5 linked regions of the Homo sapiens genome follow. The protein of the gene in region 1 interacts with the protein of each later gene in a pairwise test. Each region holds a gene or a part of one and is shown in the gene's direction. Other genes may lie near its edges. The genes, in order: LURAP1L, CFTR, SDCBP, NOD2 and ATPAF2.

What was found.
Region 2: the proteins of LURAP1L (region 1) and CFTR interact in a protein complementation assay, tested with the Homo sapiens proteins (one large-scale study listed by BioGRID and IntAct).
Region 3: the proteins of LURAP1L (region 1) and SDCBP interact in binary tests that used the Homo sapiens proteins (3 or more experiments, as listed by UniProt).
Region 4: the proteins of LURAP1L (region 1) and NOD2 interact in a two-hybrid assay, tested with the Homo sapiens proteins (one large-scale study listed by BioGRID and IntAct).
Region 5: the proteins of LURAP1L (region 1) and ATPAF2 interact in binary tests that used the Homo sapiens proteins (3 or more experiments, as listed by UniProt).

What each region holds. Positions count from the first base shown.
Region 1 is NC_000009.12:12,820,016-12,823,576, forward strand, and holds the end of LURAP1L (leucine rich adaptor protein 1-like), read left to right. Parts: intron 1-1,370; coding exon 1,371-1,745; 3' UTR 1,746-3,045; downstream 3,046-3,561.
Region 2 is NC_000007.14:117,612,518-117,616,037, forward strand, and holds part of CFTR (cystic fibrosis transmembrane conductance regulator), read left to right. Parts: intron 1-2,095; coding exon 2,096-2,196; intron 2,197-3,520. UniProt on the Homo sapiens protein: Epithelial ion channel that plays an important role in the regulation of epithelial ion and water transport and fluid homeostasis. Mediates the transport of chloride ions across the cell membrane.
Region 3 is NC_000008.11:58,573,753-58,577,272, forward strand, and holds part of SDCBP (syntenin-1), read left to right. Parts: intron 1-2,147; coding exon 2,148-2,309; intron 2,310-3,520. UniProt on the Homo sapiens protein: Multifunctional adapter protein involved in diverse array of functions including trafficking of transmembrane proteins, neuro and immunomodulation, exosome biogenesis, and tumorigenesis.
Region 4 is NC_000016.10:50,717,600-50,721,119, forward strand, and holds part of NOD2 (nucleotide-binding oligomerization domain-containing protein 2), read left to right. Parts: intron 1-2,325; coding exon 2,326-2,409; intron 2,410-3,520. UniProt on the Homo sapiens protein: Pattern recognition receptor (PRR) that detects bacterial peptidoglycan fragments and other danger signals and plays an important role in gastrointestinal immunity.
Region 5 is NC_000017.11:18,032,660-18,036,179, reverse strand, and holds part of ATPAF2 (ATP synthase mitochondrial F1 complex assembly factor 2), read left to right. Parts: intron 1-3,520. UniProt on the Homo sapiens protein: Plays a role in the assembly of the F1 component of the mitochondrial ATP synthase (ATPase).

The sequences.
Region 1 (3,561 bases):
CCTGCCAGGCTCTGTACTCGAGCCATATCTCTTCTGTTCCAACAGAACAATCATGGGAGTTCTTACAGCACCACCTCCCCAAACACCACCTCTTGATATTAGCAAATGTTTACAGTAAACTGTGGGACCTGCAAAGAGACCCTGCTTTGTGGCTGTGGAGATAGATATCCCTGAAGTAACTTAGAGCTATCAGAAGGACCACACACCTGCCGGGAGCAGTGGCTCACGCCTGTAATCCCAGCACTTTGGGAGGCCGAGGCGGGCGGATCACGCGGTCAAGAGTTTGAGACCATCCTGGCCAACATGGTGAAACTCCGTCTCTACTAAAAATACAAAAATTAGCCGGGCGTGGTGGCGGGGGCCTGTAGTCCCAGCTACTCGGGAGGCTGAGGCAGGAGAATGGCGTGAACTCAGGAGGCGGAGCTTGCAGTGAGCCGAGATTCCGCCACTGCACTCCAGCCTGGACGACAGATCGAGACTCCGTCCCCCCCCCCCCCCCAAAAAAAAAAAAGGACCACACACCTAGAAGGCACATAAGGGAATTCTCAGACCTTCCCAACATCTGGTATCCCACTTTTGATTGGGGTGCCCCTGATATATCTGAAACAAATAGTCAGATATACAGAAATATTTGTACACTTCGTCTCATAAATTGGATCAGCCTAGTGTATCACCCATCCTTTGGATTCAGGGAATATTAGAGCAATTTGGTTCTTAAAAGCAAAAGCATTATTCAGCACTGTCTATGTTGATATAGTCATAAAGAATACAGGTCTTTTTTGTACTCTTAACTCTTTTCTATAGATTTATCTTTCTTCATGTGTAAAATGAAGACAAAAATAATAATACCTGTCATACAGTGTTATTAGATTTTGCTAATGAATGCTGAACTTTTATGATGGTGCTTGGCACATTATCACTCCATAATCAGAGGCTTTTAGAGGCTTCTACGATGCTGAGGATGACTCCTTAATTTGTTCACCTTCCTTTTCTCCCCACGACTCAGGACCCACGTATATACGCCAACGTAAACATTAATAAACTTAATCTGGCCAAAGAGAAAATAAATTTTGTAGTAGAGAACCTGCCATTCAGTATGATATGTTCAGGCCACTTGGTTAGGGTCAGGGATGCAGCAGGGGTTTTATTGTGCCTTTTGGAGCCTGATGCATCTGGCAGGAAGTGAGTTTTTTTTATTATAACTCCTACCATCAGTCAGCAATTATCAAAAAGTTCCTGACAACCAGTCCACTTATATTTTATTCTGTGAATTTAAAATTCTGAACTGCAGCAGACAGTCCCCAGATGAATTTGAGGCCTTTCGAGAGTGTAAAATGGCTGGAATATCTTTCTTCTCTCTTTGTCCATAGGTTAACCTCAGAGCCACAGACGTCAGGCTCATGCGCCAGTTGCTTGTAATCAATGAGAGCATCGAGTCCATCAAGTGGATGATCGAAGAAAAAGCCACCATTACCAGCAGAGGCAGCAGCCTCAGTGGCAGCCTGTGCAGTTTGTTGGAGAGTCAGAGCACCTCCTTACGTGGCAGCTACAACAGCCTACACGATGGCAGTGATGGGCTGGATGGCATTTCCGTGGGAAGTTATCTGGACACGTTGGCGGATGATGTCCCAGGCCATCAGACCCCTTCAGACTTGGACCAATTCAGTGACAGCTCCCTCATAGAGGACTCACAGGCACTACACAAGCGTCCTAAATTGGATTCTGAATACTACTGCTTTGGCTAGTGACAGTTTTTTGCATGGGACTGGTGTGCAATGAACTTGTATTTATCCTTCTTCTCCGCTGCTATATTTTTGGTGTGATTTTTATTTTAATAAGATGACCTTTTTAAAAGAAGCTGATTTTGAAACTGCTTAATGGTATTGCTGTTGCTCCTAATACTTCTCATCTGAGCTGATTTATTTTTCTCTGTTACATCTCTATTTTTTATTTATTACAATGATTTTCTCCCTTCTTTTACAGTAGCACAAACAAAGTAGGGGGAAAAGAATAAGCAATAATTATGTTTTTGCTTTTGTTTTCAGAGCAATGGGTCAGGGATTACAAGAAAAACTTTGCTAAATTTTACAATAAACCAAAGTCTGATAACAGTTAATGTTGCTGCTTGCGTCCTTAAATGACTTAAGGTTTCATCTTCCAGAAGATATTGAGATATATTACTGTTTGCATATCAGGTTGAACAAAATGCTTGGAACAAAATTAAGCATTATTTCTAGACCACAACATTCTAGTGTATAATCAACCATACTGTTAGTCACACACGCCCACATGACAATCATCTGAAAGTCCCCAACTATACACATTCTGTTCAACCAACTCACCCTTGTGTTGGTACTTTAGATTAACATTTTGTCATCAGTGATTCTAACTCAAATCATATGTTTATTTGTGTAATAAAATGTATTATTCTCCCAAATTTCAAGGAATAATTGAGATTAAGTATGGAGGCCATTCAAGGCAAAAATGTCCTAAATTTAATTGCATTTTGAGATTTTGTTGGCATTTACTTGTATGTATTTTGTGATTCTGATAGGATGTATAAATACTTAGATGCATACAAGCCGATGGATAGAAAGACAGATAAATATCCCGATAGCCTACTATCAGCATCCTACTACTGCTTCCCTAAAGCAGAATTGTTATTCATTTAAGAAGTCTAATATGATATACATTCATCCTAGTATAAATAAATAATCTCTAAGTTTTCTGAAATGGAATATTTAACGCACATAGACAGTGGATATTTACTTTAAATATAATGTTATTAATCCTCTGCATTTCTTTTATCTTGATAACTCCTAGTGAGGGAATCTAATTAAGATTTCATGCTGTTCTTTGTAATGATAAATGTTTCCGGACTAAACACTCTATAATACAAATCAAAAAATCTTCCTTCTTATAACTGAGAAATGTTTCACCCAAATTTCCTTTGTTATTATATATTTACTACACATGTTGAATTTATTATTGTTTATTTCCAAGGCATGTATTATTCAATTTCTAATTAAAATATATCAGGGCTTATATTTTGCACTGATCTTTTCCCATAAGTCGCTTGATATAATCCTCATCACAACAATCTCATAATGTGAGGACTGTCATCATCCTATGTTTGAGGAAATTGAGGCACATAGAAGGTAGGCCACTGAGACAAGTCTCCCAGTAAGTGTCAAAGCCAGGATTTAAACTTGCATCTGTCTTATTCCTAACAATAACACTCAATAACCTCTTTGGTAATTATTGATGTTAAATAATAAAATGGGAATGAGAAAGCAAATGTAAGCTCATAACAAAAATTAAAAATGTAACCAACCAATTTCAAACAGAAGATAATGAAATATGTAACCATATGTCCACAACCTTGCAAGGAGAATATCCTCAACTACAAAGAAGTGGCAGGCTGCAAGAGTGTGAGGCATCAAAGGCAAATTCTAACTTCTTTAAAACCTACCCTTTGCCTTGAACAAGCCATGCACATGAAAGGCCATTTCTGTTCTCAGATCAGTTTCAGATCGTGAATACAATCTGGTAAATTTCTGT
Region 2 (3,520 bases), on another chromosome or scaffold:
CTAATTTAAGAATTTGAATTTCTGAGTATTTATGATAAGTGTTGAAATAACTTCTTATATGTGACAGTGAATACTGGCAGAGCAAATGCCAAATCAATGCCAAATCTGTAGGATCATTTGATTGTAGGAACAGAATTCTACTCAAACCGAAAGCAGGCATTTGCTGGAGTTACAGAAAGGCCTCATGGAACACCGAGAAGGTGGTGCCATTCGACTCTTAAAGAAGCTGCAACAGGCACAAGAGAGTCAGCTGCAGCTCTTCTTCTTGAGTCTATATCTGTCCTGGGTCCATTCCTTTTTGTGGTTGCTTCATTCCTTTCTCTCTCTGAAGACTGGTTTTTCTGGTCTACCAGGGCTATGCCACATTGACTTTATGTAGTGTCTCCATTCTGGCCTCCTGAATTTACAGGAGAGTTCCTCTGTACAAACTCAAAGTCCTGGAGAGAACAGAAAACAGCTTCCTTTTGGCTCAGGGGTCCAACTGCAGTCTACTCTGCTGCTATGAGGATAGTGGGTTCACCACCTTTGTTGTTCTCTCAGCTAGGGCAGTGGGAAATGACTCTATGAAAGGAATATACATGGGCAGGCAAATGTACTAATCCTCATCAGTACTGTAATTTTAAGCAACTTTAAAAAATTCTTTTAAGTTATTTGAAAATAAGATCAAAGAAGGCTGAATTACATAAATGAAGATTTGTTAACAATTAATTCAAACCAATATAACACATGCTATAACATGGTTGAGTGTGATTGAGTCTTGATTTATTAGGGGCAATAATCAAAACATTTAACAATCATTATAGTACAGAACTTACCAATCAAATCAGATGCTCAGCCGGAGTGGATGTTGGCCACCCAGCTATTATTATCCCTGGCTCAATTGGTCTTCAGCTGTGTTAACTTGCAAACATTAATTAACTATCTAAGCCCCTCATTTTCCTCAAGTGTAAATAGACACAATAATATTACCTATTCCATAGGTGTGGGGTGAATAGTAAATGTAATAATTTGTCCAAAACACTTAGTATAGTGCCTGGTCCATGGTAAATACTAAATAAATGTTATCTGACTTATTATTAAAATTTTATCTTCTCAGCTTAACCTTCAGAACAGTAATATATTGGGGTCTAGATAAATCTTGCCTATATGAAAATAATTTAATACTACATGCAGATATATGCTGTGTATATTATGCCTTCTGTTAGAGGAATTGCAGAAACAAAAATTTCAATTAATAATAAGATGAATTATTTCTCCCAATTGTAGAATCTTTTGACAATTTTATCATGCATTACAGATGTAAGAACTCTTGATTGGGACTTGATAGTCTAACTTTATAATAATTTAAGAACATTCCTCTTAGAGAATTTCTATGGCCATAATACTGAACACATGAATTTTAATTAGCTGTCCTCTTTAGCCCTAAAAAAAAAATTACTGTAATTTAACACTTAAGTGTTGTTCTTCCCAGGTACAGTAATCTTTTTTTTTTTTTTTTTTTTTTTTTGCATAGAGGGTAATCTTTTCTCTTTCCAAATGGCAGAACTGTTAGTTTTCTGACTGTCCGGTGAAATTCTAAGTCCACTTACTTCCCAATAGCATGCAATTAGCAAAGGTCCTCCTTGCAAAGGCACAGAACACACCTAAACATCTTGCAGATGCTGTTTGGACACTCTTCCCCTGCTTTTGGTCTCTTTGTAAAGCAGCTCATCTGGATACAGGATCTCTTTTCCCCATTGCCCATTCTAATATATGTTACCGTTATTACTTATAGAATAATAGTAGAAGAGACAAATATGGTACCTACCCATTACCAACAACACCTCCAATACCAGTAACATTTTTTAAAAAGGGCAACACTTTCCTAATATTCAATCGCTCTTTGATTTAAAATCCTGGTTGAATACTTACTATATGCAGAGCATTATTCTATTAGTAGATGCTGTGATGAACTGAGATTTAAAAATTGTTAAAATTAGCATAAAATTGAAATGTAAATTTAATGTGATATGTGCCCTAGGAGAAGTGTGAATAAAGTCGTTCACAGAAGAGAGAAATAACATGAGGTTCATTTACGTCTTTTGTGCATCTATAGGAGAAGGAGAAGGAAGAGTTGGTATTATCCTGACTTTAGCCATGAATATCATGAGTACATTGCAGTGGGCTGTAAACTCCAGCATAGATGTGGATAGCTTGGTAAGTCTTATCATCTTTTTAACTTTTATGAAAAAAATTCAGACAAGTAACAAAGTATGAGTAATAGCATGAGGAAGAACTATATACCGTATATTGAGCTTAAGAAATAAAACATTACAGATAAATTGAGGGTCACTGTGTATCTGTCATTAAATCCTTATCTCTTCTTTCCTTCTCATAGATAGCCACTATGAAGATCTAATACTGCAGTGAGCATTCTTTCACCTGTTTCCTTATTCAGGATTTTCTAGGAGAAATACCTAGGGGTTGTATTGCTGGGTCATAGGATTCACCCATGCTTAACTGAGTGGTGCCAAATTGTCCTCAAGTCTGTTGTACTGATATATATCCCCATCAAGAGAGTACAAGAATTCTCATAGCTATGTATCTTCAACAACACTTGGTGTCTGGTAGATGTGAAGTGATTACTAAAAATATAGGGAAGCTGCATACATAATTATTGGCTTTTGCTGTTCTCTTACATTAATTTCTTATTCATGTTGATTACTCATTTGTCACCTAGTTTTTTCTTCCTTAATTAAATTGTAGGAATTTATGAATTATGGATTGATCATCAGCTCTATACATTTCAAACATAATCCCTCAGTCAGTGGCTTGGCTTATAGAGTCTTTTGATGAAAAGAAGCTTTTAAGTTTAATAAAGTTCAATTTATTGTCTTTTCCTTTATGTTTTGTGCTTTTGGTATCTTGATTAAGAACTCCTTCCTTATATTGGGTTCTCAAATTTAGCAGCATAACATTTTCATACTATTATTTAAATTTTTTTCACATTATTTAGTGATAGCACCTTTCTTATTCCTAAAGTGTTTATCATTGCCTTCTGTCTTTCTGCTTGATAAATATTGCCACACATTTGTATACTTTATTAGTGTGTACAAAGACCACATTTTAGTTGTGTTATTTCTCTTGTTTTGGTTTTCTAGAATGCAGAGCCATTAATATTATAGTAATGCTTATGTGCTAATACCATATCAGGGGCACAAATCCCATTGCAGCGGGACTGAGAAATTAAAGGAAATGATGCACATTTACTCATTTTTGTTTAAAAAATCAAATGCATATTTTTCAATCAGACTATATGGTTGGTCTGGATAGCTTCATCATTGAATTTTTAAAGTATTTTTGTACTACTGTATTTAAAATTATTCATTCACCACTGCTTTTGTAGATGGTTTAGAAACCCAAGTTAGGAATGACTGTGCAACACTATTATTATACTCTTTTTAAAATTATACTTTTTGCTTAAGTTTCTTTCCTTGTTCTCTGAGACAGTGTTCATGTTCCCAAACCACACACATTTATT
Region 3 (3,520 bases), on another chromosome or scaffold:
GCACAGTTAGGCCCAGCATCACCAAGTAGAGTCTAGAAGGGTGGATTTGGAGCTGACAAACAGTAGTTTAATATCTGTTACCACCTACTCCTTTGACTACTCAGTATATCCACACACTTGTACAAACATTTGAATTTCATGTGACAACAACAACAACTTTATAGTTTCTCCTTGAAAGATGAATTTCTTCATAAAATCAAAGTTCAAACTTTATAAAGGGCTCCATAATAAATACCTTAGGCTTTCATGGTCACTTATGATCTTTATCACATATTCTTATTGTTATTTGTTTATTTACAATCTTTAAAAATATAAAAATCATTTTTAACTCAGGGGTGTACAAAATGAAGCCATGTACCCTTCAATATAAATGAAGTTGCTCTCACCCTTTCTCTAGAAAGGGATGATACCAGTTAATGTGGCCATCTCTGGGCAGTCATCATGGTATTGATTACTATATGATACTAATTACCCTTCTAAGTATTCACATTCCCAACAGAATATTTTTAATTTAAAGGCAAAAGTGTAAAGTTAACCACTACCAACAATTCATACATAAAGGTAAAAAGAGGTATAGAGGAACAGAAAGATTAATTGCTGTATTTACAGAAAATATACAAATACAAAGAAGAACAGAGTCATAGCTGCTCTGATTCTTATTTTAGTAACTGATCATGAGGCTGTAGTTAAAATTTAGAACTTCCTTTGTTCACTACATGGATGCTTAGATCCCTTTGCCCAAATACCTAGAAGGGTGATATAACCTTCATTTTTGTGTCTGCATCTCCAGGGTTCTTCAGTGCGCCGCCTTTTATTTTTCTTCTGTTCTATTTTAAATTAATTTGTTGCTGGAGATTTCTGTTATCTCTTCATATCTAGTGAATTTTTCATTTCACATATTTTATTCTTCTTCTCTTGATGTTCCATCTGGATCTTCCTCTCCCCAGCTTTATTGAGGTATAATTAACAAATATAAATTGTATATATTCAACTGTATATATCAATACAACTTGATGTATTGATAAACACACACAAACACACATTGTGAAATGATTACCACAGTCAGGGTTATTAACGTATCTGTCATCTCACATGGTTACATTTCTTTTGGTGTGTGGTGAGAACACTTAAGATGTACTCTTAGCAACTTTCAAGTATACCGTACAGTATTATTAATTATAGTTACTATGCTGTACATTAGATCTCCAGAACGTACTCATATGATAACTGAGAAAGTTTGTACACTTTGACCAACATTTTTCTCATTCTTTGCCCTGCCCAACCCCAGCCCCTGACAACCTTCCTTCTACTCTCTATTTCTGTGAGTTTGACTCTTTTCAGATTCCACATATAAGTGGGACCCAGACAGTACTTGTCTTTCTGTGTCTGGTTTATTTCACTTGGAATAATATTCTCTACATTTATTCATGTTGTCCAAATGGCAGGATTTCCTTTTTTTAGTGGCCTAATATTATTCCATTTTCTTTTTGGTTGGGGAAAGGTTCCACTTAAAATAAACCAGTTTTGATTAGGAAAACTGGAAAGAATTAGAAACTTGAAACATGGTATATGACACAGGTCCCTAATGTAGGTATTCTGGGGCATTCTGGTTTGTGCATATGATTTGTTAATCCATAGATGGTTACTAGAGGGGAAGAGACATAATAGTTGACTGTCTTATGTGTGCCAGTGCCCATACAACATGCACTTTTCATTTAATCCTGTCAGTAACAGTGAGGTAAGAAATTTGCCCCTTTTATGGAAATTCTGAAAGGATAAGTAGATTGTCAAAGATCGTGACATCATGAACCGTCTGGAAAATGTTTCAAAAGTATATGGCCTTTAAGTTCAAAGATAATAAATTTGAGATGAAGACAAGCCAGTATACCGGTGAAACAAATGCCAGTGAATTCAAAGGGCAACAGAGAGTCATTGAATCTATTAGAGATGATATGTGTGGGAATAAGTTAGTGAAGAATTAGTAGTAGAGCCAGTGCCATTTTCATAGACATCAAACTTTATCGGAAGGAAATTATTTGTGGATTGCTTTTTGGAAAGCCAAAACTGAGTAAGTTCCAGTTAATTATCATTGTTTTTTTCAAGGAGAGTGTTTCTAGATATTGACACATTGTATATGGTTTTGTCAGCAGTTGGTAGCAAGACCTTCCAGTATAAACTATATGGTGGCTCCTGTAACTGGTAATGATGTTGGAATTCGTAGAGCAGAAATTAAGCAAGGGATTCGTGAAGTCATTTTGTGTAAGGATCAAGATGGAAAAATTGGACTCAGGCTTAAATCAATAGATAATGTAAGTATTTTAAATACCTATTTGAATTTGTCTAAATCTCTTACATAATAAGTGATTAATGTTAAAATAATTTGAAATGGAAATGCTTTAATTATAATAGTGCATCTGTAGTTGAGAATATTTTAAATCTACTAACTTAAATGTTTTCAATTGGGGATGTTCTATTTTGCAGAGGCATAGTTGGGACTTCTGACCACATTACTTTGAAAGATGTTTCTTTTCTGAATATTCTAACTGGAATACATTTCACTGGCCTACATATATTATAGTTTGTATAATAGAATTGTGGCAATTAAATAGAGCAGATGTGAAGGTTAAGAAAAAACTTTCCAATGAGAGTCAATGTCAGTGTGCCTTTTTTTTTTTTTTTTTGAGACGGAGTCTCGTTCTGTCGCCAGGCTGCAGTGCAGTGGTGTGATCTTGACTCACTGCAACCTCTGCCTCCCGGATGTGTGTGCATTTTTAAACCAAATGATCAGTATTTAACTGGTGAGATGGTTTTTGCAGATTTGTTATTAACATCCTTCACATTTGAATTTAATATGTCATTTTCTGAGTAAAAAAAGATGGAATATTCTTTCTAATTAGGGCAGCCTTTACTTTATAATTACCTCTCACCTTAACATACTGAAGATATGAAACAGGGTTACTCTCTGAGGAACCATTTATAATTGTGAAGGACATGTTGAGTCTTTACCCCAATTTATAGTTTTAGCCATTACCTTATTGGATTCGGTTTCAGTCATACATCTCTAGCTTAGTGCATCCAGCCTTTCCACATAGAAAATTATAAGTGTGGTGCACTGCTGTAAATGGAGGAGGCTGATCTTGGCAGGAGGCCCCCGCCCTGCCTGCCCACCCAGGGGGCTGAGGCCATCGATGATGGCCTTGCTCACTTGTATGTCACTCAAAATACATCTGCGTGCTTAGTTGGGATGCTCTGACTTTGCTGCCCTTTCTCCAGAATCTTCAGGGAATAGAGTATACTGCTGCTCCTTCCGCCAGGATTGCTCTTGTGTTCTTTCCTCTGTCCTAAAGAGAAAAGATACTTTTCATAGGCCCCTTGGCCCCACTGTAGGTAATAGTTGCAGTGGATTTGTTCACTTGGCCAAAGGGCATTTGTTCATTTATGGGGTGCTACCTAGTTCTTGCTTATCATTCTACAATGTAACAGATGTGTGATAGAAATATGTGACCTAGCTTAGGATTGT
Region 4 (3,520 bases), on another chromosome or scaffold:
TTGCTTCCATCTATTCTTTTACCTCTTGGGCTGGGTTTGTGGATGGGAGCCGCCATTTTAAAATGGCGGGCCACATAGCTCAGTCTCGGCAAGGGCTACTGAGATCAGAACCACAGGTGCCAATTTGTACAAAGGACTCAGTCCTGCTACCACTGCCTGATCCCTCAGACTCACAAGCCTGGAATAGGCTGTGGCCAGACCTGGCTGGCCCATCCCTGAGAAGGGTGCTAGTTTCAGAAATGGAGGCTGAGTTTGTGGCCAACACAGTAGTCCTCCGGTATGTGCAGGAGAGATGTTCTAAGACCCCAGTGGATGCCTGAAACCATGGAGAGTATCAAGCCCTACACATACCATGCTTTTCCCAATACCTACACACCTGCAATAAAGTGTAGTTTATAAATTAGGCACAGTAAGAGAGTAATAGCAACTCATAATAAAATAGAACAATTATAACAATCAATGTACTATAATAACACTATGTGAATGTGGACTCTCTCCATCTCCCTCAAAATATCTTCTTGTACTGTACTCACCCTTCTTCTTGGGAAGATGTGTGGTGGTAAAATGCCTGTGTGATGGGAGGAAGTGAGGTGGATGACGCATGCAGCACTGTGCTCTAGCGCTGGGCTGCTGTTGACCTGACCACACTTCAGGAGGAGAATCATCTGCTCCCAGAGATCCCTAATCTTTGAGCAACAATGAGGTCGGCAGCTGGATGTCAGGAGCAGACGATCTTGATGATTACCAAATGGGAGCGTATAGAGCGTGGATGCGCTGGACGGGGGGCTGATTCACGTCCTGGGTGGGATGGAGCTGGATGGCACGTGATCAGAATAGCATGCAATTTAAAATGTATGAATTGTTTATCTCTAGAATTTTCCATTTAATATTTTTGGACTGCAGTTGATTTCAGATAACTGAAACCATAGAAGGCGAAGCTGCGGATAAGCAGGGGGCAGGGATTACCGTATATCATTGTAATAGAGAGCACAGGCTCTGGAGCCAGACTGCCCGAGGTTTGAACCCTCATTAGCTGCGTGACCTCAGGTCAGCCCAATGTCTGTGTGCCTCCGTTTCCCCTTCTGTAGAATGGAGGTAATAACCCTGGCTACCTCACAGGCTGTAGTGATGAGCAAGCAAGTTAATCCACATGAAGGGCTGCACCGTCTGGCAGGGGCTTTATATAGTAAGCGAGTGGCTGAAAGATGATGGGTAAATCACACAAGCACTCAGCTTGTTTCTCCTTATGTGAGTCCGGTCCTCCAAGCAGGGATTCAATGTGCCACCCATTTATTGGGGAAAAGTCCTAAAAGGGGAAGTGGGGAAGGGAGCTGGGGGAGGCTGGGAGGTGTGTCCCTGAGTGAAGGAGAGAGGGAAGGAAGGAAGGTTGAGACTGGGCACCTTGGACTTCAGTGCAGTCCTAAGACATCTTGGCAAGGCTGATGAGGAGTTCTTGAACCAAATTCACCAGGCAGGGGAGCCTGATGTCTCAGGCAGGGGCTGGCAAGTGCAGATGCGAGGATGTTAGATTTTGGAGCACAGCAGCTGGGGCCCTTGGCTACCTCCAAGGAGCTGAGGCTGGAGACCTGAAAGGCGAGTTCTCCTAGCTGCCACACCCCTTCTCCAAGGATACAATAATATCTGCCTTATAGGATTGTTGTGAGCTGAGTGGCTTGACGTTCCTTGAAAGAATGAAAGCGTATAGTTATCCCAGGAAGCCTAGGGTTGCAGGTGAGAGCTCTGGGGCTTCTCCGAAGCTCTCCGAGGTGTCTGGATTCAGTTGCAGCAGGAGCCTTCCTTGCTGGGATCTTCCCCCACCCCTAGCCTTGGCCCTCCCTCTCTCCTTCCTTTCTGGAAGGCTCAGTGGGCCCCACCCCTCCCTCCAGCCACCTGGACCTGCCCAGCGCTCTTGTGCAACAGGTAAAGCCTACCTGTAGCAACAACAGATCTGGGAAGGCTGCAGAGGGCACGATGGGGTCTGGATCGAGGGCGGCTGAGACCAGAGGGAAAGGTGTGACCCTGAGTCACCCTCGCTGTCCCGGGGAAACCACCTCCCAGGACAGCTGCCTACTGTGGCTCCTGCCTGGAATTGTCACACTGCTGTGCAAACAGCGTCCCGCTGCCCCTTTCCCTTTGCTGGGGGAAAATGAAGTTGTGGGAGCCGCTGAGTAAACTAGACCTAGCAGCGAGGGCACCTGATGTGGCTGCTGCCTCCCGGGCAGGTCTTCAATGCTTTCTTCCTGTGTTTCCCTGGCCAGGGCACAGACGGCCCTCCTTTTCTGCCTGCCGCTGTGTTCTCTCAGCCTCCTCTGTCTTCCCTTCCAGGCTGGGGAATAACTACATCACTGCCGCGGGAGCCCAAGTGCTGGCCGAGGGGCTCCGAGGCAACACCTCCTTGCAGTTCCTGGGGTAGGTTGGATTCCAGGAAGAGGGACCTGCATGGAGGGGCTTGGGACTTTTGAGGATTTAGGGGCAGGTGAAACTCTTCAGCCAGGAGGCCCCAGAGGCAGCCCAGCTCCAGTGGGGAGGACAAGCCAGGGAGAGAGTGGGCGGCCCTTGACTGCCACCTTCATACTTGGTCTATGCCTGACAAACAGGAAGTTTGGGATGTTGGGGCTAGGGGAGGACAGTGCCCACGAGCTGGTGACAGGAAGCCCTCTGATCCTCAGGGGGCGCTAGGGCTGTACTTTAGCTGCATATTAAAACCACCTGGAAGCTTCTAAACACTATTGCCAGGCCTCCCACCCCAGACTGATGAAATGCAAATATCTAGGTGCAAGGCCCAGGTATCAGGAGTTTTAAAAAGCTTCCCAGGGGATGTACAGCCAGGGGTGAGGACCCCTGACCTAAGAAAGAGAAGGAAATGGGGAAGGATAGGAAGGCACCCAGGATAAGAGGGGCTGTGCTAGGTCCCTCGGAGCTCTTGCTCCCTGTAGGACCATGCTAGGGCCTGCCAGGGAGGGGAGTACCCCAACCTGCAGCCCCAGGGTGGGCTTCCTCTGTTTGCTAGGCACCCAGGCTTGCACCTGTGCTGTTTCCAGCAGCCTCTCTCCTATCCTGTCATGCCCTAGTGTGAACTGGAGTCCATTTGACAAGAACTGGGAGTTTTAGAACCTGGGACTGTAGGAAGAGAGAATAACCTTAGGGCCTAGGTGTTCCAGCCCATTTCACAGGGAGGCAAGTTGCCCCCAAGCTCAGTTTTTTGTTTTGTTTTGTTTTGTTTGAGATGTAGTCTCACTCTGTTGCCCAGGCTAGAGTGCAGTGGCACGATCTTGGCTCACTGCAACCTCCGCCTCCTTGGTTCAAGCGATTCACCTGCCTCAGCTTCTCAAGTAGCTGGGATTATAGGCACCCACCACCACGCCCAGCTAATTTTTGTATTTTTAGTAGAGACAGGGTTTCACCATGTTGGCCCGGCTGGTCTTGAACTCCTGATCTCAGATGATCCGCCCGCCTCGGCCTCCCAAAGTGCTGGGATTACAGGTGTGAGCCACCGCACCCGGCCCCCAAGCTCAGTTTG
Region 5 (3,520 bases), on another chromosome or scaffold:
GCAAGCTGATTGAACTTGGCCACTTAGGAATGGCCATGCCATTGAAGGTTATCAGAAGGAGAGGAGGAGTTTACGAAAGGGTCACTGAGGTGTTGGAGAAGGAGATATTGCAACAAGAAGACCTATATGAGGTTGTTGTGGCAGTTTAGTTCTGCACCAGCTTATCAGAGGTCTATTGACTCCCAGAGTGGCAGGTGTTCTGGAGAAACCTATCTATTCAGCGTATCTGGCTGAATGCAACTGCCTGATGAAGTCAAGGCTAGAAGTCTTGTCTCTGCTATTTACCAGTTGTCTGTCACCAAGACAAGATGTTTAGCTTCTCTATCACCTCCGAGGCATTAGCTGCCTTGTCATCCTCATAGAATAGTGGTGTGGATTGAGGGAGATTATGTAGTCTGTAGATCAGGGTCCAGCCTGCCACCTGTTTTTGTAAATAGAGTTTTATTGGAACACAGCCACATGCATTCATTTACATATCATCTATGGCTACTTTCACTACAGTGGCAGAGTTGAATAGTTGGAACAGATATTGTATGGCTTGCAAAGCTTAGAATATTTACTATCTGATTCTTTGCAGAAAAAGTTTGCTAAATGTTATACATTTGGCCTGAAGGATTTTTTTAACAGCTTTATTGAGATATTTACTTGCTATACAATTCATTTACTTGAAGTGTAAATATAATAGTTTTTAGTATATTTACAGAATTGTACAGCCATTGCCACAATCAATTTTAGAACATTTTTATCACCCTTAAAAGAAACCTGCACCCTTTAGCTATCATCCACCCTTACTACTTCCATCCCTTGGCAACTACTACTTTCCTTTGTTCTTTTATAGATTTCCCTGTTTGGGACATTTTATATAAATAGAATGTGGTCTTTTTTGACTGACTTTTTCACTTAGCATAATGTTTTAAAGTTTGGGTTTTTTTTGTTTTTTTTTGTTTTTAAGAGATTGGGTCTCATTCTGTTGCCCAGGCTGGAGTGTAGTGGCACGATCACAGCTCACTGTAACCTCAAACTCCTGGGCTCAAGTGATCCTCCTGCCTCAGCCTCCCAAGTAGCTAGGGCTACAGGCACACACCACCATGCCCGGCTAGCTTTTTAGTGCTTTGTAGAGATGGGGTCTTGCTCAGGCTGACCTCAAACTCCTGGCCTCAAGTGATCCTCCTGCTTCGGCCTTCCAGAGTGCTGGGATTACAGGAGTGAGCCACCATGACCAAACGTTTTTAAGTTTTATCCACCTTGTATCATGTATCAATGACTCCATTCTTCTTTATTGCCAAACAATATTCCATTGTATGTGTAAATATGCCACATTTTACTTATCCATTCATCCATTGGTGGACACAGGGTCGTTTCTACCTTTTGGCTAATATGAATAACGCTACTATGAACATTCATGTACAAGTTTTTGTGTGGACATATGTTTTCATTTCTCTTGGACATATACCTAAGAGTAGAATTACTGGGTCAAATGGTAACTCTGTTTAACTTTTGGAGGATCTGCCAGACTGTTTTTCAAGGTGGCTGTGCCATTTCACATTTCCACCAGCAGTGTTTGAGGGGTCCAGTTTCTCTATATCTCAACACTTGTTGTTGTCTTTTTTATTACAGCTGTCCTAAAGGGTTTGAAGTGGTATCTCATTGTGGTTTTGATTTGCATTTCTCTGATGAATTATGTTGAGTATCTTTTCACGTGCTTAATGGCTATTTGTATATTTTCTTTGAAGAAACGTCTATTCAGATCCCTTGACCATTGTTTTTTTTTAAAGAGAGGGGGTCTTGCTCTGTCACCCAGGTTGTAGTGCAAGTGGCTCAGTTACAGCTTACTGCAGCCTCAACCTCCTGGGCTCAAGCGAGCCTCACACCTCAGCCTCCAAAGTAGCTGGGAACTACAGGTGTGTGCCACCATGCCCAGCTGACTTTAAAATTTTTTTGTACAGACAGGGTCTTGCTATGTTGCCCAGGCTGGTCTCAAACTCCTGGACTCAAGCAATCTTCCCACCTCGGTCTCTCAGACTTGAACATTTTTAAATTGGGTTATTTGTTGTTGTTTTTGAGACAGGGCCTCGGTCTGTTGCCTAGGCTAGAGTGCAGGGGTGTGTTCATGGCTCACTGCAGCCTCAACCTCCCAGGCTCAGGTGATCCTCCCATGTCAGCCTCCTGAGTAGCTGGGACTACAGGCACGTGCCACCATGCCTGGCTAATTTTTGTATTTTTGTAGAGACAGGGTGTTGCCATGTTGCTCAGGCTGGTCTTGAACTCTTGGACTCAAGTGATCCACCTGCCTCAGCCAGCCAAAGTGCTGGGATTACAAGCTCGAGCCACCATGCCCAGCCTATTTGTCTTTTTGTTATTGAGTCGTAAGAGTTCTTTATGTATTTGGGCTGAAGAATTTTGATACCTGAAAAGAGTTGGTTAGAGCCGCCCTAGGATTACAGATGGCCCTGGAGTTAGAATTTCACCTTTAAGGTTTAAGGCCCACCAGATGGCACTGTTTTAAAAGATAAAGGCACTGAGACAGCTCTGAAACCAGTACTTCCTCTTCTTGGTGCACTGTGGGAGTTGTGGTTCCTGAGGCTGGTAATCTTTCTAAAGGAAAGGCCAGTTCTGCATGATCCTACAAAGCTAGGCTGATTTTTTTCATCTTTAAAGACAGGGTTACCATTGATGTCTGCTAACCATGTATTCACCGAGAACATGGAAGCTTCATAGGTTTCTGGTGGTCTCACATTTTGTCTTATGTGACATTGTTGGGGAACATGGATCCCCCAAACGAATTGTCCAGATCATGTTCTTTTTTTTTTTTTTTTTTGAGACAGAGTCTCATTCTGTCACCCTGGTTGGGGTGCAGTGGCGCAATCTTGGTTCACTACAACCTCCGCCTCCTGGGTTCAACTGATTTTCAGCCTCCTGAGTAGCTGGTATTACAGGCAGGCAATACCACACCTCGCCAATTTTTTAATTTTTTGTAGAGACAGGGTTTCACCATGTTGGCCAGGCTGCTCTTGAGCTCCTGGCTTTAAGTGATCTGTCCCCCTCGGCCTCACAAAGTTCTGGGATTACAGGCATGAGCCACCATGCCCGGCCCCAGATCAAGTTCCTGTATGCCTGTGTGGAGCCTTTACTTGGCTCCCTTTGCTGTCTTTGCAGTGATCTACATGTCCCCCATATGTGGCCCCATTGCCCTCTCTAGCATCTTAGAGAATCTTGCATTCTCCTTCTGACCATCTGTCTAGTCCACAACTGCTCTCTAGAAACCCTGGTCCTTCATGCAACCTGTTTCTTCATCTGGAAACTACTTCCACAGCCCTGCTCTGCCAAAAAAAAAAAAAAAAAATTGAATCAATCAGAAAGTTTGGTACCTCCTGCCTCACCTTCAAGTTGCAATTTAATTCTGACTAATCGTTCCACGTGCCTGCCCCATCACAGAAGTCACCTTATTGTTTGCCTGGTTTAGTGTCTGTATTCCTACTAGACAGTAAATGGCTGGAGAGTGCAGAGATGAGCTTTGCAC